4 linked regions of the Homo sapiens genome follow. The protein of the gene in region 2 interacts with the protein of the main gene of each other region in a biochemical or structural test. Each region holds a gene or a part of one and is shown on either strand. Other genes may lie near its edges. The genes, in order: PPP1R9B, DRD2, NCS1 and TRPC5.

The links.
Region 1: the proteins of DRD2 (region 2) and PPP1R9B form a complex in vitro, tested with the Homo sapiens proteins (one study listed by BioGRID).
Region 3: the proteins of DRD2 (region 2) and NCS1 form a complex in vitro, tested with the Homo sapiens proteins (2 studies listed by BioGRID, with this or other methods).
Region 4: the proteins of DRD2 (region 2) and TRPC5 form a complex in vitro, tested with the Homo sapiens proteins (one study listed by BioGRID).

What each region holds. Positions count from the first base shown.
Region 1 is NC_000017.11:50,147,678-50,154,785, forward strand, and holds the start of PPP1R9B (neurabin-2), read right to left. Parts: upstream 3,001-7,108; 5' UTR 2,837-3,000; coding exon 1,466-2,836; intron 1,151-1,465; exon of another isoform or gene 1,058-1,150; intron 1-1,057. UniProt on the Homo sapiens protein: Seems to act as a scaffold protein in multiple signaling pathways. Modulates excitatory synaptic transmission and dendritic spine morphology. Binds to actin filaments (F-actin) and shows cross-linking activity. Binds along the sides of the F-actin.
Region 2 is NC_000011.10:113,416,391-113,423,425, forward strand, and holds part of DRD2 (D(2) dopamine receptor), read right to left. Parts: intron 1,747-7,035; coding exon 1,637-1,746; intron 610-1,636; coding exon 473-609; intron 1-472. UniProt on the Homo sapiens protein: Dopamine receptor whose activity is mediated by G proteins which inhibit adenylyl cyclase. Positively regulates postnatal regression of retinal hyaloid vessels via suppression of VEGFR2/KDR activity, downstream of OPN5.
Region 3 is NC_000009.12:130,231,403-130,237,837, reverse strand, and holds the end of NCS1 (neuronal calcium sensor 1), read right to left. Parts: intron 4,849-6,435; 3' UTR 535-4,848; downstream 1-534. UniProt on the Homo sapiens protein: Neuronal calcium sensor, regulator of G protein-coupled receptor phosphorylation in a calcium dependent manner. Directly regulates GRK1 (RHOK), but not GRK2 to GRK5. Can substitute for calmodulin. Stimulates PI4KB kinase activity.
Region 4 is NC_000023.11:111,771,767-111,778,801, forward strand, and holds part of TRPC5 (short transient receptor potential channel 5), read right to left. Parts: exon of another isoform or gene 6,889-7,035; intron 5,237-6,888; coding exon 4,547-5,236; 3' UTR 1-4,546. UniProt on the Homo sapiens protein: Forms a receptor-activated non-selective calcium permeant cation channel. Mediates calcium-dependent phosphatidylserine externalization and apoptosis in neurons via its association with PLSCR1.

The sequences.
Region 1 (7,108 bases), on a different chromosome or scaffold from region 2:
CTGCTTCAGAGTCCCAAGAAACACTACAGTCCCCCATTCCCTTCAGAACCCCACTGCCTTCAGGAGGGGAAAGGGGTTGGGAGAGGACCCCGCAGGTCCCAGCCCAGGGGAGAGGCTGGCCTGAGAGCCACTCACTTTTAACCTTTCAGGCCTCTTGCTGGGGTGGGAGGTGGGAGAGGGGCAGAGGCTGACATTCTGGGCGAGTGAGAGGAAAGTTGGGAAGCTTCAGAGTCCAGGAGTAGTTATGGAAACGACAAGCAAACAGATGGTGCTTTGGCTAGGGAAGGGTAAAGGCAGGGCAGGGTCCAGGCCAAGGAGAGTCCAGGGACCTGGACACTTCCATGGGGCGGACCTGGGGCCGGGTGCAGCTGAGCCTGGGGCGGTGAGGAAGAACCCTGCAGGCTGAATGTGCTAGCCAAGAGTGGAGGGTGGTGGGAAGTGGGGGGAGGGGTGGCCTGGGGTTTTTGATTCCCCCCAGGGGATGTTCCCTCCCCATCAGGGCTGTTCTGAGGATCTCAAAGCTCTGGCACAACCCACAAACCAACCACCAATAGTGGCCGTGGGGATGAGACCCCCAAAAGGGGCAGCTCCCATCCCTCTTTCAGGGCTCCCAGAGAATGTGGCAAGAACACTTGGGGCCTGCCAAGGCCATGGGAGTCTGTCCTATTGAGCAGCCAAGAGTAAAGGCATGCCCACTACTGCCAGGCACCCAGGGGGATCCCAGCCCCACCTCCTCCTCCTCCATGCCTGCAGAAGGCCTCTCCCCATCAAGGACCACACAAAGTGCCCCTCCCTGTGCAAGGAGGACCGGGCAGCTGGCCTGCAGGGACCCCCAGGGAACACGGCGCCAGCCAGTCACATGGCCACAGACCAGCTCACCCTCACGATCTGCTTCCCTCTTTCACTTCTGCAAAGTTGGGGTGGGGGTACAAACAGAATAGAGGAAGGGCTGCCTGCGGTCCCCTGCAGCTTCGTTTTGAGAAGTTCCTGGCTTTCCCCTTTCTCACCTCATCCAGCTCCCATACAGGGGGAAAGCACCCCGGCCCCCTCTCTACCCAGTGAAGGGCAAATGTCTCTCCTGAAGACACACACACCCCTTCACACTACCCAACCCCAGCCTCTGGCAGCCTCTGGAGGAAGGAATGTCCGGGTGAGGAAGGGAAAGCAGGTGTCCCAGGACCCGCGTGGGGCAGGGCGGGTTCCGCGGAGCGGCGGGGCGGGGCAGCAGGCGGAGGAACCTGAGGGCAGGTCGGGGCAGGCCACCCCCCTCGCACACCTGAAAATCCCTCTCTGACAAACAGCTGGAACTCCCCCACGCCCCCCTGAGGGTGGGAACTTCTGGGAAGGGGGCTGGGTGGCAGGGGCTGACTCAGCCTGCCAAACCCGGCTGGCTGGCTGGCGAGCGGGGGCGGCCGCGTGCACGTGGCAGGGGCGGCGCGGGGGCAGGGCGGGGGGGCTCACTTACTTGGATGGGCGCCGTGCTGAAATGGATCTTCCGGCTCGGGGCTGGGTCCTCCTCCTCCGACAGCCCCGGGATCTCCACGCACCCCGACTCGGGCTCGTAGGGGGGCTCCCCATCCTCCTCGTCGTCTTCGTCGTCCTCCTCCAGGGCACTGCCCGCAGAGTCCTCCCCGAGCCCACTGTAGGCGCTCACGTCCACCAAGTCCGCCTCCGAGAAGTCCTCCTTCTTGGATTCATCTACCTCCTCAGGGGCCACGTCCGGGGCCCGGCCATTGCCCACCCCCCTCTCTGGCGGCGCTACCGCCGCCGCCTCCTTCTCCGGGGCCGCTTGGGCCTTTGGCTCCTCGGGCGCGGGGCTGGCTGCAGTTGCCACGGTGCTGCCATTCTCCAGGGCCGCGTGGACCGTAACCTCGGCCTGGATCACCTCCCCGGGCGCCGACTCGGCCTCCGACTCCCCGCTCTCCTCCACCTCCACCGGCTTAATCTTGCGCACCTCCCGGGGCTTGGGGGGCGGCCGGGCAGGGGCCACTCGGTGCTGCGGGGGCTGCTGCCCTGCGGGGCATCGCTCTTTCTCGGCCGGGGCATCCCCCGACGGGGCGGGCGGCGGCGGCGGCGGGGGCTGGAACACCCGGGACCGCTTGCTGACCAGCTTCGAGTTGACCTGGGGAACCCCTGCGGCCCTGGGGAGCCCGGGCCCGCGGTGGAGGCCGGTCCTCGAGTCGGCCTTCTCGAAGACGGCGCTGAGCTGGCTGACCGTGGGGGACACGGCGTCAGCGTCCAGCTTGTCCAGCGCCTCGGTGCTGCCGTTGAAGCGCACCACGACGTCCAGCTTCCGGTCCTGCAGGCCGGCGCGCTCCTGCCTCAGCAGCCGCCGCGCCGCGGCCTCCTTGTCGCCGCCTGCGGCCGCTGGGGCGCTCCGTTCGAACAGCTTCCGCGTCTCCTGCAGCCGGGACGGCGGGTGCGGCGGCGGCGCAGGCTGCGCGGAGGGCGCGGGCTTGGAGTCGAAGCGGCTCACGCGCTCCGACACGCTGGTGCCCAGCTTCAGCAGGGCGCTGTGGTCCACGTTCTCGTTCAGGCTGCTGGCCCGCGGCAGCGACAGGCGCACGCCGCGCTCGGACGCCCGTGGGGCCTCGGCCAGGCCCGCGCCGCCGCCCGCCTCGCCCGAGGGCCCCGCCGTCGTGCCCATCTGCAGGAACATACTTTTGATGCGGTGGACGTTGGAGCCATATTTCTTGTGGTGGGCCCCCTTGGGTGCCTCGTCGGGCCCGGGCGCGTCGGGCGGCTTCAGCGCCTGGATGCCCGCCTCGTAGGCGCTGCGGTGCGGGGAGGCGCTCCGGAGGGGACCCCCGGGCCCCCGTGGCTCCGTCTTCATCATGGTGGGGGGAGCCGGGTTCGCATGCCCCTGCTCCCCGCTCCCCCGCTTCAACAGGCGGCTGGCCAAGTCGGGACCACCGCCCCCTCCCCCCGATAAAAGAAACCCCGAAGGCCTTTTTTAGGGTCCCCCCAAAACCAAGCTGCCAAAAACAGTTAATCCCGCTTTAAAAAAAAAAATGAAAAAAAAAAAATCTCCAAGCGCCCTGTGTGTGGGTCGCCTCCCCCAATCAAGCTGCCGAAGACAGCCAGCCCCGCTTCAAAAGCCCGAGCGGCCTGGTACGGTCGCCCCCACCCAAATTAGCAAAGCGGCGTCTGGGGCCGGTGGGAGCGCGCGCCCTGCCCGCGAAGCAGCCGCGGTGTCGCCGGCTCACATCGTCCGAGACGGTGTCAGCGGGGCTGGCAGCCCGGGCGTCCCCCAGTCCGGCCGGAGGCCTCGGCTCTCGGGGGGCCCGGCACCCCAACGCCCATGGCTGCTCCGCCGGCCCGGGCCGCTCCGCCGCCGCGCCTCCCTCCCTCCCTCCCTCCCCCCCGTGCCCCGAGCCTCGGTCTTTCTCTGGCTTTGCCCGAGCGGCGGCTGCCGGAGACCGAGCGGCTGCCCTTCTCGCAGCCGCCGCTGGGGGACTGGCACCTCTGGGTCCTAAAGGGATCGGATTTCCGGGGCCGGAGCCTGTGAGCCCTCCCCTTCCCCTCCACCCGAACGGATCCCCTCCCCTCCCCAGCCCTCGCGGAGAGCCTTCCGCTGCCCCCGGACGTTGGCCAGCACTCTTCAACCTGCTTCCATCACAACTTCTGACTGCGGTCACAACCCACAGAACCGCACCTCCATGAAATATTGGGGGGAGGCAGTACATCCACGATGGTCTCAGTGTGAGGGGAGGGGGTTTGTAGGGAGGGGCAGAGGTTCATTCTTCAGTGTCCTCGGAGCTAGCTCTTCGGTGTGCTTCAAGCCTTTAGCATCAGAATCGCTGGGCACTTGGTAAAAATGCAGATTTCTGGGATCTCTCTCGAACCTTGTGAAGGAGAATCTCCGAGGCTGAACCCAGGAATCTGCATTTTAACACTTCACTACAGGCAATCTTTGGCCCCCTTGGAGGTGTGAAACCTTGGTCCAGCGCTGGTGACCTTTCGATGGTGGGGGAGGGGTGGTGAAGAAAGGAGGTGAACCCCGTCATCCAAGTAGCAGGGGATCACCAAAACTGCCGAAGTCTGGAAAGGATGTCCTGTCGCCTGTCTGCTGTGCACCCGTCTTCAGGCCCCTACCCTGGCACTCCTGCCTCTCAAACCGGAAGGAAGGGTTTGGGAGCAGGAATTCGAGAGGCCTGGGGCCAAAGTTTCGCCAGTGAGAGCTCTAACTTGGGTCTCTGATTTAAAGGATCCTGGCCACTGTGTTCCGGTTGGGGTGGGGGGGTGGGGAGGGTGACAGTGACTTACACATCCCCTGTCCTGGCAACCCAGAAAGCTGTTTGATGCCCTCTGCACCCCCCGCATACACAGCTAGGGTGCTGGCGCTGCCTGGGCCCTGGGTGTGAGAGTCCGCCCTCTGGACAGGTCCAGGTGAGCTGGTTCATTCCACACATCCCAGAAACTGGTGAACACAATGGGCCCTAGGACCCAGAGAACAACTCAGGCACAAAGCCTCCCCCCACTCCCAGCTGCTTCCTGCATCTCAGGCCTTTCTGCGGCCTCTGCCTCCTCCCCCGCCCTCTTCCCCTCCATCCTCTTCCTCCTTTTCCTAATCTCCCACTCTCTCCCCCCTGGCCTGGAAGGGCTGGCAAAGGGAGCCCTCCTACCACTCCACTGCAGGGGTGTGTGTGGGTTTTGTGGGATATTAACGCGTTACCATGTGCAAAAGAGCTTAGAGTACAGCGTGGGGGATGGGGTGTGGGGAAGCCGCCTGGGAACCCTGGATATTGGGATCGGGAGGGGCCAGGAACCGCAGGACTGATCCTGAGGCTGGTGCTAAGGAAGAGGGAAGATCTAGGTTGTGAGCTAGAGCCGGAAGTGAACCCAGACCTCACACTTTCCAAATGCCACCTGCATCTTTGCCCAGTTGCCCAGGAAACTTACCCCTCCCCAGTTTTGCACTTTGGGATGGTGCAGGGTGAAGAAGTCTGTCTCCTAACCCTTCTTAGAAGGCCTCTGTCAGGAGCAAGCTTTGGGACTTAGATTTCCAAACTCAAGATTGGGTCTTGAAAACCCCTCCCCACAGGCCCCCCAACCCCAATATAGAAGTCCGGAGAAGACAGAAACCTCACCCAGTTGGGGTTTGGAAGTTTGTACAATGTACTCAGAAGCTCTTGTGTGGATTGGAGGAGGGCGCAGGCCCCTGTGTTCTGCCCAGAATCTCCCACACCCTTGGTGGTAGATCATCTTAACTGGTCCCAGCCCAAGGGGTCTGTGCCCACGCGTCTGGCCAGGTGGGGAAGCCCCCAGTTTCTGAGGGTGGGAGAAGGAGCTGAGAACCAGCTACCAGGCCCAGAGACCCTCGGACTCCCAGCATTTCCGGTAGCAGCTTAGAGCAAACTGGAATTACAGGGGTGCTCTTGGGTCTCCCTTGTCCAAAGGATTATGAATCTCCGGACAAACCCCTTTAACAGACCCTTCTAGGGGGTTTGGGCTTCAAGAGGGTGGAGCTAGCCAGAGCTTGGGGGACTGAGGCTAATCAGTGGGATTATTATTTCATGGGCTCCTGGTTAGCAGAGCAACACCCTGGCCAGAATTCCCAAAGACGCTTTTATGGAGCGGTAAGTGCTTCACCATCACTTGTTCTCTGGTGTCAGGCACCAAGCCGGCTGGCCTGTGAGATGGGTGAAGAATGGGGTCTCATTCCCTCCATCCCTTCTCTGCCTGTCTGGAGCAGTAATCGCACCTGATAGGAACAAGGAGGGTTTGGGAGGGTTACCATCCAAACTGAAGGCTTTAAATAGAATTTTCATTCATTGGGCTGTCATCTTCACCTACATCCTCCAGTGAGGAAGCACTCCAGGATAATTTAACCACCCTTTCTCTTTCCTTTGTCTTCATGGAAGAGACTTTGATGGCCAAGTTGCCCAGTGGTCTTTGGATGGAAGTTCCTTCCTTACCTTTGCCTTGGCATAGAGTGGTTGACCTAGGAGCCAGGCTGCTAGGGTTCAAATCTTGGCTTCACTGCTTACTGGCTGTGTGACCTTGGACAAGTCACTTATCCTCCTCTGTGCCCTGGGAGGATGAAAGAAGGCCCAGAAAGGACGAGAGTGGCTCGGACACAGAAGATAGGGTGTGGGGGAGGAGACGCCTTTCCCAGCCTGTGCTAAAAAGGCCAGAGGCTGCGATAGGCAGAGATAATTCACCCCCAACTCTCCTCCTGGTAACCGCCCCCCTGCCACAGCTTTCCCACACCCCCCCAAATCTGCTTAGGGCCCTTGGGAAGATGCTCTGTTAGGACTCTTCCCCAAGGCTTGCTAGTTTTAAACACCAGGTGTAACTGCAAAGATAGTGATGAAGGCAGGGAGAGGCCTGACGAGCGATAAGTCCCGAGCCCTCAGCGCCCTGGGCGCAGGCCCGGGCTGGGTGCCAAGGCTGGCTTCTCTTTCCAGCCCTGGGGCCTTGAGACTCAGCTTCTAAAAGCGGTTTTTCCTTGGCCACGGTCATCTAAGCAGAGGCTGGCCCAGACCCTGCACTTGGATCCTTTTGTGGTGAGCCAGTGGTCCCCACCCAGTTGCTCTCCTTCAAGAGTTGACCTCTGCCAGGGATTTGGGCTGGTTATAGGATGCTGGAAAGGTATGCTGGAAAGGTGTGTGTACACCTCAAATCCAGGATGTCAGTGTTGGAGGGGCCTTTAGTGGCCCTTGGCTGACCTCTTCACAGGGAGAATGACGAAAGCTGAGAAGTGACATACCTAGTTTTAAAGGAAACAGACCAGGCTAGGGTTCATGAGGCCTGAATTGAGTCCTAGCTGCACTCATTTGCTGGATGACCGTGGGCTAGTCGTGTCCCCTCCCAAAGCCTGTTTCCTCAAAAAGCTTAGCTTGAGTGTCTGAGTGTTTCCTGAGCATAGATAACCCTAGGTGTCCCTCACTTTTGTGCATGCAGCACAGGCCTTGAAGCCAGGCCATCTCTGTTAGAATCTCCAACCTCCCACTCCCCAGCTAAGGGGCTTCAACAAATTCCTTCATCTATAAGATGAAGATAATATACCAACTTCATAGAGTTTTTGTGAGGAATAAATGGGTCCTCAATGCATAAGGCACTAAAAGGGGGCTCAGAGTGTTGGCTGTTACTGATTGCAGGGTAT
Region 2 (7,035 bases):
CACTTCTAGCTTTCCTGCTCCAGGTGGCTAAGGCCTGACCTGGGTTTAGCAGGCCCTGAGGGCTGCAGCTTCATTACAAAAATACTATTGTCAGGAGTGGATGGAAGCCCAGTAGCCTCCGCCATCCCATGTTCATGTGCACATATACACACATGCAGTTTGTGAAGCACGTCTTGCCTCTTCAACTTAATAACCAAAGTTGAAAATTCCCAGACATACCCCTGAACCATTATCCCCACTCCTCATCCAACTCCGTTGTGTCCTGGGCCACTGTTTCCTCTCTGCCAACCTAGAACAACTCTTGAGTGGGGCTTGGCCCAGGACACGTAGCCTGGACTCAGTCCAGGGTAGTGATAGGCCTCCATTGGGCCTCCACCCATATCTGTGCCAGGGACTCTGCTCCCTCAGGGCCCTTCGAGGGAGCAGGGGCCCAGGGCCAGCTGAGCCTCAGGCAAACAAAAGCAGAATGTACCTGCGTTATTGAGTCCGAAGAGGAGTGGGCAGGAGATGGTGAAGGACAGGACCCAGACGATGGAGATCATGACGGTGACCCGGCGCTTGGAGCTGTAGCGCGTATTGTACAGCATGGGCATGGCCACAGCTGTGTACCTGCAAGGGCGGGGGACCCTGAATCTGGGGTGCAGGCCCAGGGACCCCTCACTCCACAATATGCACACACCAGAGACACCCTCACTCCTTGGGGCTAAACAGTTGACACACCTCTATGAAGCTTGCCTGAGATGCTAACTCAACCCTCCCTCCTGTCCCCAAACTCAGATGGCGAGGACAGTTGGCAAAGCCCAAACACTTAATCACTGGTGAGCTATTGTTTACTCTTAGCTCATATCTATTATTCTAACCGGCCCCACCTGGATTTCAGGCTTTTCGAAGAACCATGGCCTGCATCTTTGCACTTTTGAAACTGTACCCACTGCACTTGTGTTGAGCCCATAAGGTGGAAATGTTTGTTGATAAATTGTTAGCCAGGCCCCTCAGAGCAAGATTTAAGCCTTAGTTAGCAGGAAATAACAATGGCAATTGTCTACAATCCTTCATCACATTTTTTTTTTTACCCAGCCCTTCTCATTCATTAACTTATTTCATCTTCCAAGAATGGTGTGAGGGAGGTAGGGTCATATCTGTGCAAATTAGTGGAAGGCTCCAAGGATGCAGCTTAGCAAGGTGTGCATGGCCTGGGACCCTTGGCCATGTGCCAAGGACATAAAATGCATAACCAGATACTGCAGCTCCAGGCCACAGGTGTCATCAATGTAGGTTTCTAGAAAATGAAACTGAGAGCTCTGAAAACGTCCATCATCTGCCCAAGGTCACATGAGTAAGATGTGCTAGAGCTAGGGCTTCCGTCAGAATCACAATCTTTCCCCTTTTGTACCAGTCACTGTCTGAGTATGCTTGGCAGCATCACTGTCCATAGATGGCTTCTCTTTAGGGAGTGTGTGCTCTCCTAGCCAAACATACACACATGCACACCCATACACACAAACACATGGACCCCCATGCACACAGCCAGCTGCACAGCATCACAGACACGAGACACAGCCTGGCTTTGAGAAAAGCTGGGGCAGCCAGAATGGTGAGTGGCCAGAGCAACCTCTTCCACCCTGGCTGGGCTCACCTGTCGATGCTGATGGCACACAAGTTCAGGATGCTCGCCGTGCACATCATGACGTCCAGAGTGACGAAGATGTCACAGTGAATCCTGCTGAATTTCCACTCACCTACCACCTGGGGACAAAGCAACATAATGGATGGACAGCAGGAGTGGGAGATTAGCTTAGGTCCTGTAGCCTGGTACTCCTGGAGCCGATGAGGCCACAGACTCAGGAGGCAGCTGCAAGTCTTGTGGGCATCCAGCTGGGGTGTGGGGAGTGATGCCCATGGGTGTCTGAGGCCCTTGCCCCTCGCTTATCTTCTCCCAGATACATAAGACCACTTATTGCCAATTACTGTGCTAGAAGAAAGACAGCCAACTTATACGGAGGGCCTCAACTTTAAACCTTAATCTCTGCAACCTTTGTTAACCCCATGTGTTTTCTTAGATTCTGTATTTGTGTATTTGGCACCCATTCATCACAGAGACACCTATATTGACTATATTTTTCTATCTTCTCTGATCCTGATATTCTGGCACTTGGGAGCCTCACAGACCCAGAGAGAGACTTACTGTCCCAGAGCTAGTTAATTCCTGAAGACAGAAAATGACTGACTTGGAAGGATGCCTCTCAAATGCAAGCCAGCCACCCCGTTTCTCTAATTCACACACACACCAAGACAATATTTCCCCTGTCCCAAATTATCTCAGGTACCAGAGAGACAACTAGAGATCACCCCTGTAGCCCAAAGCCTGCCAGGATGTTGAGACTAGCCAACCCTAGGTTGCTTAATCTGCCCTGCCTTGCACTTCCTGTGGGAGCCCCAACAGGGCTGTAGCCTGGGCTTTCCCTCACCCCTGATTCTGACTCTTGACCCAAGCCTGCTGCTTCCCCCTGCACCCCACATGGCGGGCTGAGCATCTGGTTTCTAGGGACATTGTGTATCACGTTAAACTCTTCCCAATGGCACTGGCTTCCCTGTGTTATCACTCAGCCATACCTCTGTAAATTAGATTCCAGGTAAAATTTTAGAATGCCCGTGAGGAAACTGAGAACCAATGAGGAAACCAAGCCTCCAAAAAGTGCAGTGATTTCCCCAAGGCCTGTGGGCTCAGTTCCTAGTCCTGCTCTGGCCCAGGCTCTGGCTGAGCCAGGCAAGCCCTTCAGTGGTTGGCCCAGTACATGGCAGAGTCGGGGCCCCAAAATGATCTGTTAAGAATAATGGTGAAGATGAAGACTCGCCATGAAACAGAGAAGAAATTTCTGCTCCTTCTTATACCCAGAGAACGAAAGAAGGCAGATCTGGGCTAGTGCTCGAGGAACACCCGAGTGGGCTGGGGTAGGCGGAGGGGTTGCTGTGATGAGCTGTGTCCTTGGTAGGATGGGAAATGAAGAGTCTAGCTCCTGGCAGGAGCACGTTTCTCATACACACATGCACACAGGCACACACACACACACACACACACACATGAACGCACCGCCCTCCCCCCTCCCCACGTAACACCCATTCACACACAGGCACACACTCATGGCAGATTACGCAGGCACACACTCACGGCAGCTGTCCCTAGCGCTCTGGAAGCTTGGAGCAGCCCCAGTTCCCTGAGGATGGAGTCAGGACAGGGAGATGCACCTTTGGCTTCTACCAATAGGAGCAGAGAGGAGCGTGAAAGCCCCCTCCCGCAACCCGGAGTAGGGCAGACTTCGTGTCACCGTGTAGCTTGGCAGCAGGGCTAATTATAACCTTGCTCATTCTGATCACTGCCCTCTCTTCTGCTCCTAGGCATCCAACCAAATGCTGGCATTTAAGCTCAATGATGGGCAATGCAGCTGCTGTCATCCTGTGTGGCAGAAACAGCAGCTTGCCCCAGAACACAGCAAGCCTCTCATGCGGCACTGTCTTCCTGGGAGCTCACATGGGGGCCCCGTACCAGGGCCTCTCTCCCAGCTCCCTGTGCTGCTGCGCTGACCAGTTTGGCAGGAGCTAACAGCTGGATGCCCATTTTGCGGGTGGAGGCAGGAGGGTACGTAAAGGGCTTTCCTGGCATAAACAGAGTGTGCCTTTAGGGTACCACTGGGCAGAAAACCAGCACTACCTGATTTACATCCCACTTTGAAGCCCCTCCTGGGACCAGTACTTGGGAGCCACTGGGGATCTAGGTTGAGATATCAGGGCCTTCCTCCCTGTCTTCCTCCTCTCCTTCCCTCCTTTCTGCCATCCCTTCTTTCCTACAAACACTTATTGAGCAAATTACTGTGTTCCAGCCTCTATCCTAGGCTCCTGGACACAGTTGTGAGCAATTCAGACACAGTCCTGCCTTCATGGACATCTTAAATCTCTCCTTGCACTGGCCTATCTGGAGCCCAGAATAACAAAGAGATTTCCTCTGTGGTCCCAGGGGAAGCTGCCTTGGAGAGTAGTTAGGGCTGCTAACTTAAAGACTCAAGAAAATGCATTGGTGGCCACTGTCCATAAGACATCTACTGTGGGCATTGCACTTTATCTCATGTATCGTTCTTAAAACTTTTACAAGAAGGGCTTGCTTATCCCACTCATAGGTGAGGGAACTGAAGCCCAGAGAGGCCATGTAACGTGGCCAAGTTCACCTGGCAGGTGTGCAGCAGAGCTGGAATCTGAAACATCACATCCCATGCTCTCTACTAAGCTGCCCTGGAAGGGACCATCTAGCTTATCAAGAGAGGAGATAATTAGGTGACAAGTACTTGGTAAGCATGAAATGTGAAAAGGAAAGATGATTATTTCAAGGGTGGACAAAACTAGGGAGGGTCAGAGAAGAAAACAGAACAAGATCACTTGGTGATTTAGTAGCAGAGGAAGGAGTGGCCCCAGGTTCCCTAGTCGAACCCAAGGCTCTTTTCTTCACACCCCCAGGCATCCAGGCATCATTCCTTAATGCTCTTGCTCACATAAAGCTGAGACCTGCAGTACAGGCCCTGAGCTGGCTCAGCTAAGTCCTAATAACTGTAATAATACTAAGGACTTACCATGTGTCAGGCACTGTTCCAAACACTTGATGCTTATATCTTAGAATGCAGACAGTAAGCCTCAGAGGCAAATGACATAACCACCTCTCCTCCATACCTCCAGCCAGCTACTCCCTCTCCCTGCTGGGTGGCTTTCTTGAGAATGCAAGTGTCTCCCTCCCTCTCCTGCATAATTTTTCCGAAAGCATCATTTCTCCCTGAAAGTCTTCCCTGACACCCTCATGCTGGGCCTTATGCCCCACACCTCCTATGGGGACTGCTCCACTGTCACCGGCAGCAGACTGCACTGTAGGGGCCCTGTCAACCTCTGCATCCCCAGCAGGTCAGTGCCTTAGCCCATTGCACAAGGATTGGGGTAAGACCTCGGAGTGCTCAGTCAGTGCTGACTGAGTGAATGAATAACTCTGAGATATTTGTTCATCTTCTCAATCTCCTCATCTAGAAAATAAATGCACACAGGAAGCCGCTCCTTAAAGGGTTGTGAGGCTGACATGGAATGGCACATGTGGACATCAGGAACTCTTCCAATAGCATCTAGATGGAAAGGAATGGAGCTGGGAATTGAACCTGGTCCTCTCACTCCAAAACCAGCGTGCTTTTCATACACTTAGCAAGATAAATAACGCACACTTAGTCCTAAGCCAGACAGATGTTGGCATGGCATTGCTGGAAATGGAACAGGAGGAAAAAATCTGGATGACAAGAGCATGTATTAGAGAGGGGACAGTGCGTGGTTGTGAGGGTGCGCTGATAGGACATCAGGGCAGGGTGAGACGTCACCTGGGACGTTCTCTAGGGACAACAAATCGCTGAGATAATGTCCATTAAACAAGGCTCAGTGCCCAGCTCTAGTTTGATGAGATGCTGTGGGGAAGTCTGAGCCCTGCCCTCTGAGAATGGCTTCTGCACCCTCCTCCCCTGACACACTCAGCTTCACCTTTAAAATAAGGTGAACAAGCATGTTTAAAGGATCTGTTCGAAAGACTTACAGATTCCTGGGAACCCCCTATAGCCCATGTATGGATTTGTCCCTACCCAAGTGCCTGGGTAGGGACAGGGGGTCTGGAAGCTAACAGAAGCCATGCCCAGAGCCCTGGGTAGAACACACGTTCCTCTGGGAAGAGGGTACCTACTTGCCTGGGGCGAACATAGGGAGTACTCTCTCCTTCCTCTTTATCCCAAGGGGGCGGTGAATAGGAAAGACAGAGTCCTCCCTATGTGGAGCAGTGCTGGATGTCTATTGTCATCTTCATCTTTATCATCATCGCCATGGCTGACATTTACACAGTGCTCACTGTGAGCCATGTATCATTCTAATCACTTTTCATACATCAACTAATTCGATCCTCAACAATGCTATGATGTATGATACTATTATTATCTGCATTTTCCAGATGAGGAAACTGAGGCACAGAGAGTTTGTTTGCTCTACCATTTTTCCCTATGGTCTGAGACCTAGGACCCTCCTTTGGAAGAGGGAAGAAGGAGGGGATCAAGCGTAAGAATTAAGAAGGCATGGACAGAGTCTAGGGGCCCTCATAAACATGGATCCAGGGGGAATTGGACTCCTGGCCTGTGTCAACTGAATATTTTTATGTGGTTTTGTATTTGTGTTTCCTTTTGGTTCTTCCTTAATATCCAGTCAGGTCATTTTGGAAGTTGCAGCCTGCATTGGCTGTAGTAAAGGAAGCCAAGGGGTGATGGATCAGAGCTCCCTTGGGCCCGGGGTGGTGGTGAGAACAGTAAGCGCACGAGCCCCTTGGGGGCCCAGGGACAGGGAGGTGTGCCACTTTCCACCAGTCTCGCCTCCTCACCTGAGCGTCCTCATCTAGATTTCTCCCCTGTTTAAACCTACAAAGCTTTCTCATTTTCTTTCAACAACCCCTTCCCTCTCAGGCAGGGATGGCCTCAGAGGCACTGGTCAATTCCTCTCCTGCTCAGGGAAGGAAGGTAACGGTTCAGTGGGCAGAGCACCGGCACTTTCCTAAATGCCTGATCCCATGCCTTCCCATGCACCTAGACTCCCAGATTGCTTGAGTCCTGGACATGCCATCCTAGAAAGCTGGGCAGAGAAAGGGGCAGGATCCAGCTTGTGCCCACCGATGATCCCTAAATGCTCCCACATCTGCTCGCTGGCTCTGAAGGTGTCTTCCTGGAGAATAATATCTGCTTTGGGATTTCTCCATCAGCATTTCTCCCTGTGACCTGGGTGAAGAAAGGCAACTTCTCCAAAGCTTCTATTTCCTATTTTGTTTTTGTTTTAATTTAATTTTATTTTTTTTTTGAGACAGAGTCTTGCTCTGTCGCCCAGGCTGGAGTGCAATGGTATGATCTCAGCTCACTGCAACCTCTGCCTCCCAGATTCAAGCAATTCTCCTGCCTCAGCCTCCCAAGTATCTGGGATTACAGGCATATG
Region 3 (6,435 bases), on a different chromosome or scaffold from region 2:
CTCACACCACTCAACTCTAGGCCTCGCAGAAACACTCCTGCAGATTTTTCTGGTTTAAAAGTATACTCAAGGTTCTCACTTTGCACATTCTTTCTCTCTCTTTTTTTTTTTTTTTTTTTTGAGATGGAGTCTCGCTCTTGTCACCCAGGCTGGAGTGCCATGGTGTGGTCTCAGCTCACTCCAATCGCCGCCTCCCGGGTTCAAGTGATTCTCCTGCCTCAGGCTCCCATGTAGGTGGGATTACAGGCGCCTGCCACCACACCCAGCTAATTTTTGTATTTTAGTAGAGACGGGGTTTCACCATGTTGGCCAGGCTGGTCTCGAACTCCAGACCTCAGGTGATCCGCCCAACTCGGCCTCCCAAAGTGCTGGGATTATAGGCATGAGCCACTGCACCCGGCCTACACATTCTTTCTCTTCAGGAAACTGGGAAGACAACACCCAAAGCCAGAGAAAGGGTGTCACAAAGGGAAGAAACCTAAAACGAAACGGAGAAGAATGTAAACAGACAAAGCAACAGGCCCACACAGGGAGGCGAGGACAAGTCCAGGAAGCGTGTTTAATTGGCGTGACATGGACGACATACAGCAGGAGCTTGGGGAGGCTGGGGCATGCTACACGGCCCCTGTCCACCCCTGGGCCTCGCCCTGACCCTGGCCCCAGAGACACACACCGGCAGGTTCAGACAGGACGGCACCCCAAAAAGAGACTCAAAGGGGGCTGGGGAGGCAAGCAGGAAAGGAAATAACCACAACCAGAAGACATTGCCTTTTGTTTGTTTGTTTTTGCAAGCATTATACCAATTTCTCCCCCAAGTGGCAGGCTCCGGGTGGGAGGCAGCAGCAGTCCAAACCGCTACTCTTGGGCACCGTCCTCCACTTCTGTGAGGGGCTTTGATGATGACACTCACATTTGGGTCTCACCAGGCCCCTGCGAGGCAGGCCCAGCAGAGACTCTTGCTCCCATCCAAGGGATGGGGAAATTGAGACCCAATGAGCAGAACTGACTTGCGCAAAGTCCTGAAGGAAGCCAGCCACCGAGTCAGGCTGGGAGTGAGGTGGGCCTCCCTGGGGCCGGGAGCCACTGCAGGAACAGGGACAACAGGGAATGTGCAGACTGGGGAGGGCGACTCGGGGCTACCCCATCCTGGAGAAGGGGCAGAGCCTGAGCCTGGATGCTAAGATGCCAAGACAGAAGATGGGACCAGCTGTTTATTCAACAAAAGCCTTTTATTCATTCAAAAATTAACCATTGGGTTTATTCCGCAGATATTAAAAAAAAAAAAAAAAGAGGGGGGCAAGGCTTCCCATCACAGTGCCCTTAAGTTAATTCACTTGCTATCCAGGGATGGCCTAGCAGAGGGGTGTCTGGGAAACGCTGCCAGAAATGTGGTGGCCCAGGGCCTCTGAGGACTCACAGCCCCCTCCTCGCCTCCCCGCTCCAGCCTCCCTCCGGACCACCCGTCCGGTGGGGTTGCAGCCCCCAGGTGCGTTGGCGGCTTACCACCACCAGGGGGCGCGCCGCGCTTCCTTAGCTCCCTTAAAATTAAATGCTGAAACCGCGCTGGGAACAGGGTGACTTTCCGCCTGGCGGGTGGGCAATGGAGGCTTTTTCCAGAGACAGCCTGCCTCTCCAGGAAGGGATCCCAGGCATCCCGACCTCCCCACCAACCCCCTCCGAAAAAACACAAAGTTCCTGAAACCCCAGGTGCACTTGTCTAGGAAACGGGCTGTCAAACTGAAAAGCATTTCAGGGGAAGAGATGTCAGTACAGAGGGTGACACGTACGCTTGCCTTGATGTTATTTTAAACGTGGCCTGCTTAGATCATGGAAAATCGGAACATTCTCCTAAGTCACCATCAACACAAAGTGAGGAGCAGACGCTACGAGGAAGAGGACAGGCCGTGGCCGACTGGCCGCCTGGGGCTGGTGCCTGCCCTGGCCCCAGTGCGAGGCTCTGCAGAGGGACTATGGGCGTGCCCTCTGCATCAGAGCATCTGAAGCGAGCCGCATTGGGTGGCAAACGCCGCTGTGGAGAGGCGCACGGGCTGCTCAGGAGGCACCTGGCTCAGGATTCTGCGGCATCACTGCAGCCAGAGGCCTGGGGAGAGGAGGGGGCAGAGATCGGTCCCTGCCAGGCAAACTCTAGTGAAAATGGCCAGTGTCCAGCACCCCGCCAGGGCCGGGAAGGGCGGCCCTTCCGGCAGCTCTGGGCTGGCTCGGGCTGTGGGCCCACCGGCATGCTGGGCTGCGGTCCGCAAGCATACCATCTGCTAAGGCCAGAAGCCACACCTGTGGCTTCAAACCAAAAGGCCAAAGGGCAGGACGATGGAGGAAGGCCGGACACACCGAAGGGGTCCACATGCTTAAGCCCAGACACCCTCAGCCACAGGTCAGGTTGTACAACAGTGTCAGTCCCATTGGACCAGAGAGGCAAATCGAGCCTCAGGCAGAGGCCAAAGGAAAGTAATTTGACCTGGGAAAGACCTCCCTCATCCTCTCAGCCCAAAGCCACCATGTTCGTTCCCTGCCCCAGACCCCAGGTCAGAGCCCAGCTGAGAAACTTCAGCCGTTGGTGCTGAGTCCCAGGTCGCCCGGGCCAGCAGCTGAGCAGGGAGCCGACTGGCAGGGGCCTCAAAGAATCCACCCTTCAAAGTGGCCTGTGAAGGTGGAACCACTGACCCCATCCCTGCAGGATGTTGGTGGGGGAGGGGGGGTTACCGTGGGGCCAGCGTGCAGTCCTAGGGGGCTGCCAATGAACGCCTCAGGGGGGACGCTGGGGTTGGCTGAATGCTCCAGCCAAGGGGAACAGCCACGCAGCCCCACACGGCAACGTCACTACGGCAGAGGCCTTCCTCGGGCTGGAGGCCTGCTTGCTGAGGGTGGGAACCGAGGACCAAAGTGTCCCCTCTAAAACATGGGCTGATGGGCTGTTGACTCTGCAAAGCAGCAGCAAGAATTCTAGACCCAGGCCTGGCCCTGACAGTCTGGGAAGCGGCTTCTCACCTCAAGCCTTCCCTGTGCAAGGACTCCTTCTGGGTCCCAAAGAGCGCTCAAGGGTCTGGGGGGAACCAGGAAATGCTGCGGGAAGGGACAAGGTGTGCCACATGACACATTCATCTGCTGGAACTGACCCCACACACCAGCAGCCACGCAATAGGGGCTGTGCTGTGACTCAGACAGTCCCTCGGGCTGCTGGGGTCAAGCAAACTTAACCACAGCATCACCAGCCACAGGAAACTGAACCCCAGGCCTAGAGTGACATGATGTCGGCATGGAAAAGGGCCTTCAAGACCAACCAGCCCGGGCCTCCTCGCTCTGCAGATGGGGCAACTGAGACCCAGAGAGGGCAGGAGGCTGCCCACAATCAAAGAGCAAGGGCCGGACCTTGGGCTCCTACCTCTGGTCCAGGGTGGCCTCGCATTCCTGGTGATGGTCCTGGGGCCGCACCTGCCTCAGTGGCAGGCACCGCTGGAAGCCTCCGTGAAGACATGTGGGCCGCAGCCCCAGGTGTAGGGACTATATTGATGGGATTGCCTGGAACTCTTCTCTCCTTCCCTCCCTCCCAGCCTTTGAGCCAAGAGAAGGCCAGGGAAGGACACCATGCAGTTTACTGGAAAAAGCAGATAGGAAGGAGGGAAGGCAGAGCGGGAGAGAGTCATGAACTATCTTGAAATCCCCTCCCCAGCCCAAGGAGGCGGGGGTCCCCTTGATTTCTGCTAACTTACTTCAAAGACCACCTCTCCTGACTCTGCCTGGGTACCCAATGCCCCTTCTTCCAGCTCCCAGCCTTAGGCGCCCTGTTTTCCATGCTGCGGCAAACACCAAAGCAAGAGTTGAGAAACCTAAAGATGTCCCCTGTTCATCCTCGGAAAAAATGTTACGGACCCAGGGGAGAACAAGGATGCGGGGACAGAGGCAGCAGGGAAAAGGGGTTTGGCAGGAGGCATTCGGGCTGGAGGGAACAGTGCATTAGCCATTTAGGAATTTCCACCTCTCCCCTCTCCAAAAATCAAGCACAGTATCTGAAAAAAAAAAAATTTTTTTTGGCTTCTTGGCCGCTGCAGGCCACCATCCTCCCAAGTCGGCGTGGGCAGGTGGGTCAGGGCGTGCACATGTAAACGGTGGGCCCGCAGCCCTGGGAGCTGAGGACACACCAGGCAGCAGCAACAGTTAACAACCAATAAATTAAAGATATCAATTATATATGTATATAAAAAAAAACCTCACTTTCCCCACAAAAAGCACAATACTGTTATCACAAAAAAAATCATCATCCTCATAATTAATCATCCTAGCCACGCAGGTGGTTTTGCTGCCAAAAGATGGGACGACAAATAACGTTGACCAGGCAGAACCCCTAGACACCCTCGGCCCACCCACAGCCTCTCCGGCTGCCGAAGGACGAGGGACGAGGGCAAGGCAGAGTTCTCTGAGGTCCCCAGGCCTTCACCCCATCTGTCAGTCTGTGTCTTCTAGGACAGAAGGTAGTTGTTTTTTTTTCTTTTAAAACGTCTGTTCAAAATAAAAAACAAAAGCACACGCGCAAGAGAGCGGGAGGAACGGAGGCTGCCTGCGAGGCAGCCAAGTCCTTGGTTTATGCAGAGGGCTGTAGCCTTTTCCATTTCGTGTTGTCGTTTTCCGGACAAGCAGAGGTTGCTGGCAATTGGAGCCGGTGGCTTCAGGCGGGGGATGGGTGCAGGACAGGGGAGAGGAGAGCCGGGGCCTCCCGGGTCAAGGGCAGCCGGCTGTGTGTGGATGCGGAAGAAGGCTGGGTGGACGCACGGGGTTGGTGTCAGGGCTGAGGTGGCCTCATGGCACAGAAGGAGGTGAGTGGTTCCCAGGCATCTGGAAGACACAAGGAGGCAAGATGGGTTAAGATCCAGCCACAGCGGATAGGGGTTAAGGTCTGGCCACGGAGGATAGGCACAGAGAGCTGGCAGGAAGGTCGATAGATGGCAAGCTGGCATTCTATGTCAGAAGTCCTAAAAATGTGCATAACCTCTGAGGCACCCTTTGGGTTTTTTGGTTTTTTTTTGTTTGCTTTTTTTTGAGTTGGAGTCTTGCTCTGTCACCTGGGCTGCAGTGCAGTGGCATAATCTCGGCTCACTGCAACCTCCACCTCTTGGGTTCAAGCGATTCTCCTGCCTCAGCCTCCCAAGTAGCTGGGATTACAGGCGCCCGCCACCATGCCTGGCTAATTTCTTTTTGCATTTTTTAGTAGAGACAGGGTTTCACCATCTTGGCCAGGCTGGTCTCGAACTCCTGACCTCATGATAGACCCGCCTCGGCCTCCCAAAGTGCTGGGATTACAGGCGTGAGCCACCGTGCCCAGCCTATATTTATCCTTAATAAATAAATGTTTACCACTGCACCATCTGTAATAGCAGAAAACAGAAAACAAAAATGGAAGCAGAGAAAACAATCTAAGTGTCCAGTATCAGAGGAGTGGTGGGATACATTAGGACACACCCACAGGATAAAACAGTTTACAAACCATTAAAAACAACACATAGAACAGTCGATAAACACATGAAAAGATGCCCAACATCCCTAGTCATTAGGGAAACACACATCAAAGCCACAGGGAGGGCCAGGAGTGGTGGGTCAAACCTGTAAATCTAGCACTTTGGGAGGCCAAGGCAGGAGGATCGCTTGAGGCCAGGAGTTCAAGACCAGCTTGGCCAACACAGTGAAACCCGGTCTCTACCAAAAATACAAAAATTAGCCGGACGTGGCTGCGCACACCTATAATTCCAGCTGCTTGGGAGGCTCAGACAGGAGAATGACTTGAACCTGGGAGGCAGAGGTTGCAGTGAGCCGAGATTGCATCACTGCACTCCAGCCTGGGAGACAGAGTGGGACCCTGTCTCAAAAAACAAAAACCACAACAACAACAAAAAACCACAGTGAGGCAACCACTTCACACCCACTAGGATGGCTACCTTTTTTTTTTTTTTCATGGAAAATAACAAGCGTTGGCAAGGATGTGGGAAACTGGAACCTCTGTCCTTTGCTGGTGGGAATGCAAAATGCTGTCACTAGTTTGGAGATCAGTTTGGTGGTTCCTCAAAAAGTTAAACATAGAGTTAACCATATGACCCAGCAACTCCACTCCTAGGTATATACCCAAAGAACCAAAAATCCATACTCAGGCCAGGTGAGGTGGCTCATGTCTGTAATCCCAACCCTTTAGGAAGCCAAGGTACGCGGATCACCTGAGTTCAAGAGTTCGAGACTAGCCTGGCCAACATGGTGAAACCCCATCTCTACTAAAAATACAAAAATTAGCTGGGCGTGGTGGTGTGTGCCTGTAATCCCAGCTACTCAGGAGACTGAGGCAGGAGAATCGCTTGAATCCAGGAGGCAGAGGTTGCAGTGAGCCAAGATCACGTCATTGCACTCCAGCCTGGGCAAAAAGAGTGAGACTCCACC
Region 4 (7,035 bases), on a different chromosome or scaffold from region 2:
TAAATGCTTTTTTTTTTTTTAAACAAAACCAGGAACCTCAAATCTTGATAGCTCTCAATATAAAAGTGCTACAGAAGATGCTGTCATGGCAGTTCATTTTGGCAATTCCTCACAGCTCAGGAAATGTCTCATTGAAAAGTTATTCTTGCTTCCCTCTCTTCAAAATGATCTAGTAATTACCTAAAGGGATAAAGGGCCAAGGGCAGAACCATCAAATGCTGTTAAGTTTTGTTATGTGTGTCTATGTATATACACAGACACGTTCTCACTTTTACAGACATCCCTCAAAAGGCAAAGCAAGCCAAAACCCACATCTGTTGGAAAAAAAGTTACTGGAAGGTTCATTGGAAATATAATGGTAACAATGTTTCTCTCTGCTGAAGTAAAGCTCACATTCATTTGGGGTACTCAGATCCCACTGCCGAGTCCTACACCAACAAGGTGGATATTTGGAGCAATTATCTAGATAAAGTAAGCCAAAGAAACAATCTAAAATATCCTTAGTTTTGAGGCAAAGCTGCAGGGATTGAAGGTAGGGCTGTGAAGTAGGTATGAAGAGGTTATTTAAATGATCTGAACACTTGGATCAATTTGCATTGACTATGTCTATATGAGCAATCTTTTGAAAACTTGATTACCAAGAAAATATACTCAATTTTTCTTAGGTACCTTTATTTATTTATTTTTGAGACAGTCTCGCTCTGCCGCCCAGGCTTGAGTGCAGTGGTGTGATCTCAGTGCACTGCAACCTCTGCCTCCCAGGTTCAAGTGATTCTCATGCCTCAGCCTCTCAAGTAGTTGGACTACAGGCGTGTACCACCATGCCCAGCTAATTTTTGTATTTTTAGTAGAGATGGGTTTCACCATGTTGGCCAGGCTGATCTCAAACTCCTGGACTCAAGTGAACCACCCATTTTGGCCTCCCAAAGTGCTGGGATTACAGGAGTGGGCCACCATGCCCAGCCTCAATTTTTCTAAGGTACTTTTAAACAAAGGATTTGCTGCCTATCTTCAAGTACTTTTTACCTGATGATTTAACAAACCAAGGTCTGGGGCACTAAAACTATTAGTCAAAACACCACACGAGATTCACCCATGATGTAACATGAATGCCAATGGTCATTTGTATTTTCAGGCTAAGGTTTGGCCTCATATTTATCTCTAAAGTTCCCACTGAGGTTTTCAGATGAGGTTTGCACTGCCATAAGAACTATAAAGTTCTTTTTGGAAAAGGTATTAAGTCATTTGAAAAGTGGAGGCGTTCGTTTTTTAAAAATGATTTAATCAAATTGCAGACAGGTATTTACGACTTAGCTGAAATAGCCTAAGTTAGGTCACAGTGGAATGAAAAATGATGGAGGCAGAACAGGGAATTTTTTAATATCTCCATGTCAGTAGACAGAAGCGTAACTTGAAGCATTTATATCTCTGTAAAGTTTGGCATTTTCCGAAAATGATTTTAAATTTAGTCTTTCCTCTGTATTTCACTGGACATAAAGCTGGAAGTGGAGATATTTCAACAATGGTCACTTTCTAATATAATTCAAATATTTTCTTTGTAATTTTTACCTTTATTATTAGGGAGATTTTATGAGATCAAATAAATGAATCCAAGGTGTCCGGAAGTGATAAGCCAACTGTAATGTAGGTGGAACATGATATGGATATTTTAGATAAGTAGTAAATGATTTTTGTATTATTTGTGTTTGACTTTGCAGTACATTTTTAACTTCACATTTAAATATGTAAGTCTGAAGTTTTGGAGTTCACAGCATTTTTGGCAAATGAACAAAAGGGTGTCTGTAGTGGCCACTTCACATCTATATATAACATATATGCTTACTAATAAATGTCTTCTATAATCTAGAAGACTTGAGTTTATTGACCAGCTCTGTGACCTTGAGCAAGTCATTGTCCTTCTCTGGGCCTCTTTATTTTCTATTTGTAAAATATGAGGTTGGAATAGAGTAGATCCTTTATAAAGTTCTCTTTTAGTTCTTTTTATGTTTATAAATTTACTCTCAAGTTGGCTTATAACTCCTCTGGGGTCAGAGGATATACCTAAGCATTTTCACTTGAAATACCTTTTATGATACTTGATCAAGAGAGTAAGGAAGTGAACAAAATCTTTTTCCTTTCCTACTTTGTACTGAATTAGAGTTAATAAAAATGTTGGTGTCACCAACATGGAAGTTAGGGCAATAGCTGTTCAGCTTTAACCCCCATCCTAAATGAGGCTTCACTATAGCTAGTAAAGTCTTAAGCCCAAGTCACAACGATAACCCTGAGAAGATCTGAAAAGGAATGTACTCCCGTGACATATGACACTGGTTCTTTCAATAGTAGAGATTGATTTACACATATTATCTCTTTAGAACGTAAGTGACAGAAGACTTTTGGAATACAGTTCCATGTCTGGCTAGCCTGTTTTCTGACAAGTTGATAAGGTCACTGCTAGAAAACTTATAAGTTTTCAGAAGTGATATACATTTCTGAGAAAAACATGTTTTTCTTTTTATAAAATGGGGTTATATGCTATTTCTTTTGGTGCTGTTAATATGAGTTAGGAATGTAGCCCAGGTTCTATTATTATTCAAAGTGAATTTGACAATTTGAAAAGCTGAATCTGTAACTTTAGAAACCTTTCTGGAAAGTAACCTGTGATTAAATGTCAAGGCCATTTTATGACAGTCTTAGCGAAGCAGGGGAGAAATTGATTTGAGTAAATAACCACTTCAGATATGATCAAGGAATTATTTTCGGACAACCTCTTGCCAAATGGGTCTTGATGCAGCTTTTTCACTTGATCACTTTTTCCTGGATATGAGGCTTTATTCTTCAAAACCTCCTCCTATTTCTGGCCCCTCCCCCTCCATTTTGCTCTTCTCCAGGCTAGAGACAAAGATGGGAATCCATTCAAATAACAGAAACCACACTTATCAAAAGCTAGTTTGGAGGCATATTTGCAGTTCGAAAGTTCCTCATTTCTCTTACTTTTATCAGAAATTACATACATTAATCTAAATGGATTCCTATTGGTGTTGACATTAAAAAAAACAGCGTGACACCTATTTTACTTTTCTGGGCTACACACTATTTATGTAATCTCTAGGACTCAGACCTAGAGTTGTTTCAGGTCATATGTTAGAGTCTAAACTGAGGAAACCTTTGTGCTAATGTTGGTAAAAGCCGTCCTTGCTCAGCAGGTTCTCAGTGGTTATCAGGTCTAGAATGATGACCATATGCATTATGGACTTTATTTTTTAACTTGAACCACTGTATTCTGATGAGGTACTCTTAAGCTGTGGAAAAGAATTTGTTTGGATGTATAAATGTAGCTTTCTTGGAAGACAGTAGAATTTGGATCACGTTTATAATTCCATGAATCCACTAGGGTTGTTATGATATATATCTAACATAATTTACACATGCAATTCCACTGCCCCCAATGAATATTAAAACTGCAACCTGAATTAGGTTATCTATACCTAAAGTTGCCATTTTTATAAAGCAGTTAATTAAAATGAAGATGCTCTTTTCTCATATTTTGACACTTCAGCAATATGCCATTTTTCTGATAAAAATATTTCAAATTCAGGCTTTTATCTTAGAAATTATTTGATAGCAATGATAATTAAAACTATCAACAGTAGAATAGGACCCAACAAATATGACAACTATTTATCTTGCCAATGTATGAGATGTAGTGACTATTGGTTAGAGTGTAGTAGATGTTTTTAAAAAATAGCACAAATTCTAAATACTAATTTTGATACTATCAAATTTTCAAATGTAGTAAGTTAACTGAAACACACAAACAGAAAAATAATTCGCCTAACTTATTAGATATGACATATACTATGGGGTAAATATTTCATTGGCACACATTAGGAAACTAACACATCTTTAAGAAACAAGAAAACTCAATAGCCCCCACAATAAGAAGTTGTAGTATTTAAGAACGAAACAAGCCACTTATACCCAGAAACCACAAGCTGACAATTCTTTGAAATCTCTTCAGCCTCCCTTTGATGCTGTTCATTGACCCAGCATGGGCAGCGCGTAGCACTGAATGGCAACAAAGATGGGCAGGGTAGTTTGCCTTATCTGATAGCTGGTGGGGACTGCTGACCACATCCCTCAGCTCTGCGGGAAAATGGCATGAGATTCTGAGGATGGTCAGGAATCTGTGCGGCAACAAGACCAGCAAAGTGGCACCTGGGGCTTCAAGGAAGCATGGGTGAGAAAAGCAAAGCAAAAAGGTTAAGCACCCAACTGCACCTCTGATGATTAGGTGCAACACCCCTTCAGTCGGTTGTAAGATGGACTTAGTGTGTATAGGTATTAAAAAGGCAAATAATAATGAAAGTAATAATAAAACAAGAACAAAAATGGAGAATGTGGCTATAAAAGATGGTGCAAATAAGAGTTTCACTCTCCTTTCTGGGGGGCAGGGGCAGTGAGGGAATCATATTCTGTGTCACCTCTGAGAGCAAGGAAATTACAGATTTCTGTTGAGTTCCAGAACAGATGATTAGGGCTTGACTTAGAGGCGAGTTGTAACTTGTTCTTCCTGTCCATCACCCCATTTGTGCATGAGCAAGTCACAAGCCTCTCCCCAAGTTTCAAATACATCCTCTGAGGAGTCTAAAAGTTTAGAATTTGAGGAGCAGATGCTGGATGCACAGTGAAGAGAGCTGGAACAGGCTAGAGGGCATTCACTGCTCTGAGCAGCGCCCTGGACTTCACCTAATTCTACCTCACTGAGGTTAATTTCACTTTGAGAACAGGCCTCTGCTTTCCCTTTCTCCATCTGAGAATATCTGATGTCCTGCCACATACAGTGCTGCTGAACAATTCCATCAGAAATTGTGTACATTGGCTCTGAACTGGGTTCAGACATATGACCATTAAATTTGGAGAATAGGAGACCCAGTTTCTTGAGAGAAGGACCCATGAAGGAGCGTTTGCTTGATGACTCAGCTTTTGACTTTCCTTGGGCACCACTGGACCTTGGCATGGTTCTGATGAGAGGTGGCCCATGGCAAGTCTTTTTCTTGCAGCCTAAATTAAAAGAGACACTCTTGGATTTGGCCCGAGCCCCACCACTGCCATCATTATTATCGTCTCTCTGAGACAGTTCAGTGCTGCTAGTGGAAAAGCTCCTTGGATGTTTTCTATTTCCCAAGAGGTCAAGCACTTCATACCGAAAGCTGGAGATGTCTTGCTTTAATTCCTGGGAAAAGAGAGGAGACATATTATGTCAAGAAGCTTGGTCTTTATTTCAAAGTAGGCACATTAGATACCTTTGGTATGTTCCAGGTTTTTGCCTAGTAGCAAATCACAAAACACCAGAAAAATCTGCCATTATTCAAACACAAGAAAAACATATTAATAATTCCATGGGCAGGGCTGGGCTGGCCATTGGCAAAATTGTACAATGGGTAAAGTTGATTCAGGATTAGCTAACACTTTAGCAGGGATTAGTCTGTTGAGGTGCTTTCATAAGGACTAACTCCTGCTAAGTATTAACTAACAAGTTATTAGATTAGGACACTGGCTCTCAGGTGTCTGCATATAAAAGGACTACTGAAGAGGAAAAAGCTTTTAAGACTCTAACGAGTGAAACTAGAAAAGTTGAATGTCAGGTGATGAGACTGCTGTTTTGAGACAGGGGGCCCTGTTCAAACCTCTATGAAATGTCTTCTATCTCCAACTGGCTGCTTACATACTAGATTGTTCCTTTAAAAGCCAAGCTGAAATCTGTTCATGTACTTCCCCTTCTCAAAACTTGTTACTAACTTGTCACTGACTTTAGGAAAAAGTAGAAATGCCATACCATGGACTACAAGGTTTTTCAAGGCCTAGTACATGTTGCTTTCTCCAGTTTCATCTTTCTACTCTTTTCCTAGGCTCTCTGCTGTCCACCTGTATGGACATATTCTCCCTTGCCTCTGGGCCTTTGCCTATGCTGTTCTCTCTGTCTAGAACATTCTTCTCCCCAACTCGCCCTTATCTGGCTGGCTTTGCTTTCAAGCCTCAGCTTAAGCATCACTTCCATTGGAAAGTCTGTCTTGACTCCCCAAGTCCCAGATGAGCGTCCCTCCTCTCTGTGTTTCCACAGTGTCCTGTGTTTAACCTGTCAGAATATAAAATTGTTCATCACCCTTTATTATTGTTTGTCACTCCTTGAGAGTAGGAGCTGGTTAGATCTTGCTCACCACTGTACCAGAGCACTTAGCAGAGTGCTTGGAACATAGCAGACCCTCAGTAGATGAATTATGTCTATGAATTAGGATAATGGACTTTCTGTGTGCCTTAGAAAATATAGATGTGTTCATGGACACTGGGAGGGGAACATCACACACAGGGGCCTGTCAGGTGGTGGGGGTTAGGGGAGGGATAGCATTAGGAGAAATACCTAATGTAGATGATGGGTTGATGGGTGCAGCAAACCACCACGGCACATGTATACCTATGTAACAAACTTGCATGTTCTGCACATGTATCCCAGAACTTAAAGTATAATAAAAAAATTAAAAAATATATATATAGATGTGTTCTAGGATAGGATTTCTCAATCTTGGCACTATTGACATGTTGGACTGGATAATTCTTGTTGTGGGAGACTGTACTATTCATTGTAGGATGCTTAGTAGCAACCTTGTCTTTACTGTCTAGATACCAGTGTGACAACCAAAAATATCTCCAGACATTGCCAAATGTGGTCTTGGGGACAAAATTGCCCCTGGTTGAAAACGGTTGTTTTAGGCTAATGCCACTAGTATAATTTTAATGTTTAATGGTAGAGTTTCTTAAGACCTTAGATTTAATAACAGATTTTTTGATCTTATATCTTTTAAGTAAAGAAGATAATTAAGTCTGCAGGCATCTTCCCTTTGTTATCTTGTCCCTCACCACCATGCATCCTTGCCACATCATTTAAAGCATTCAATTTCCACACTGAGAAACACTCAGAATATTAAAAGAATGCATACAGCAGATTTCCTTCATTCCTGACACTGATTGTGGTGT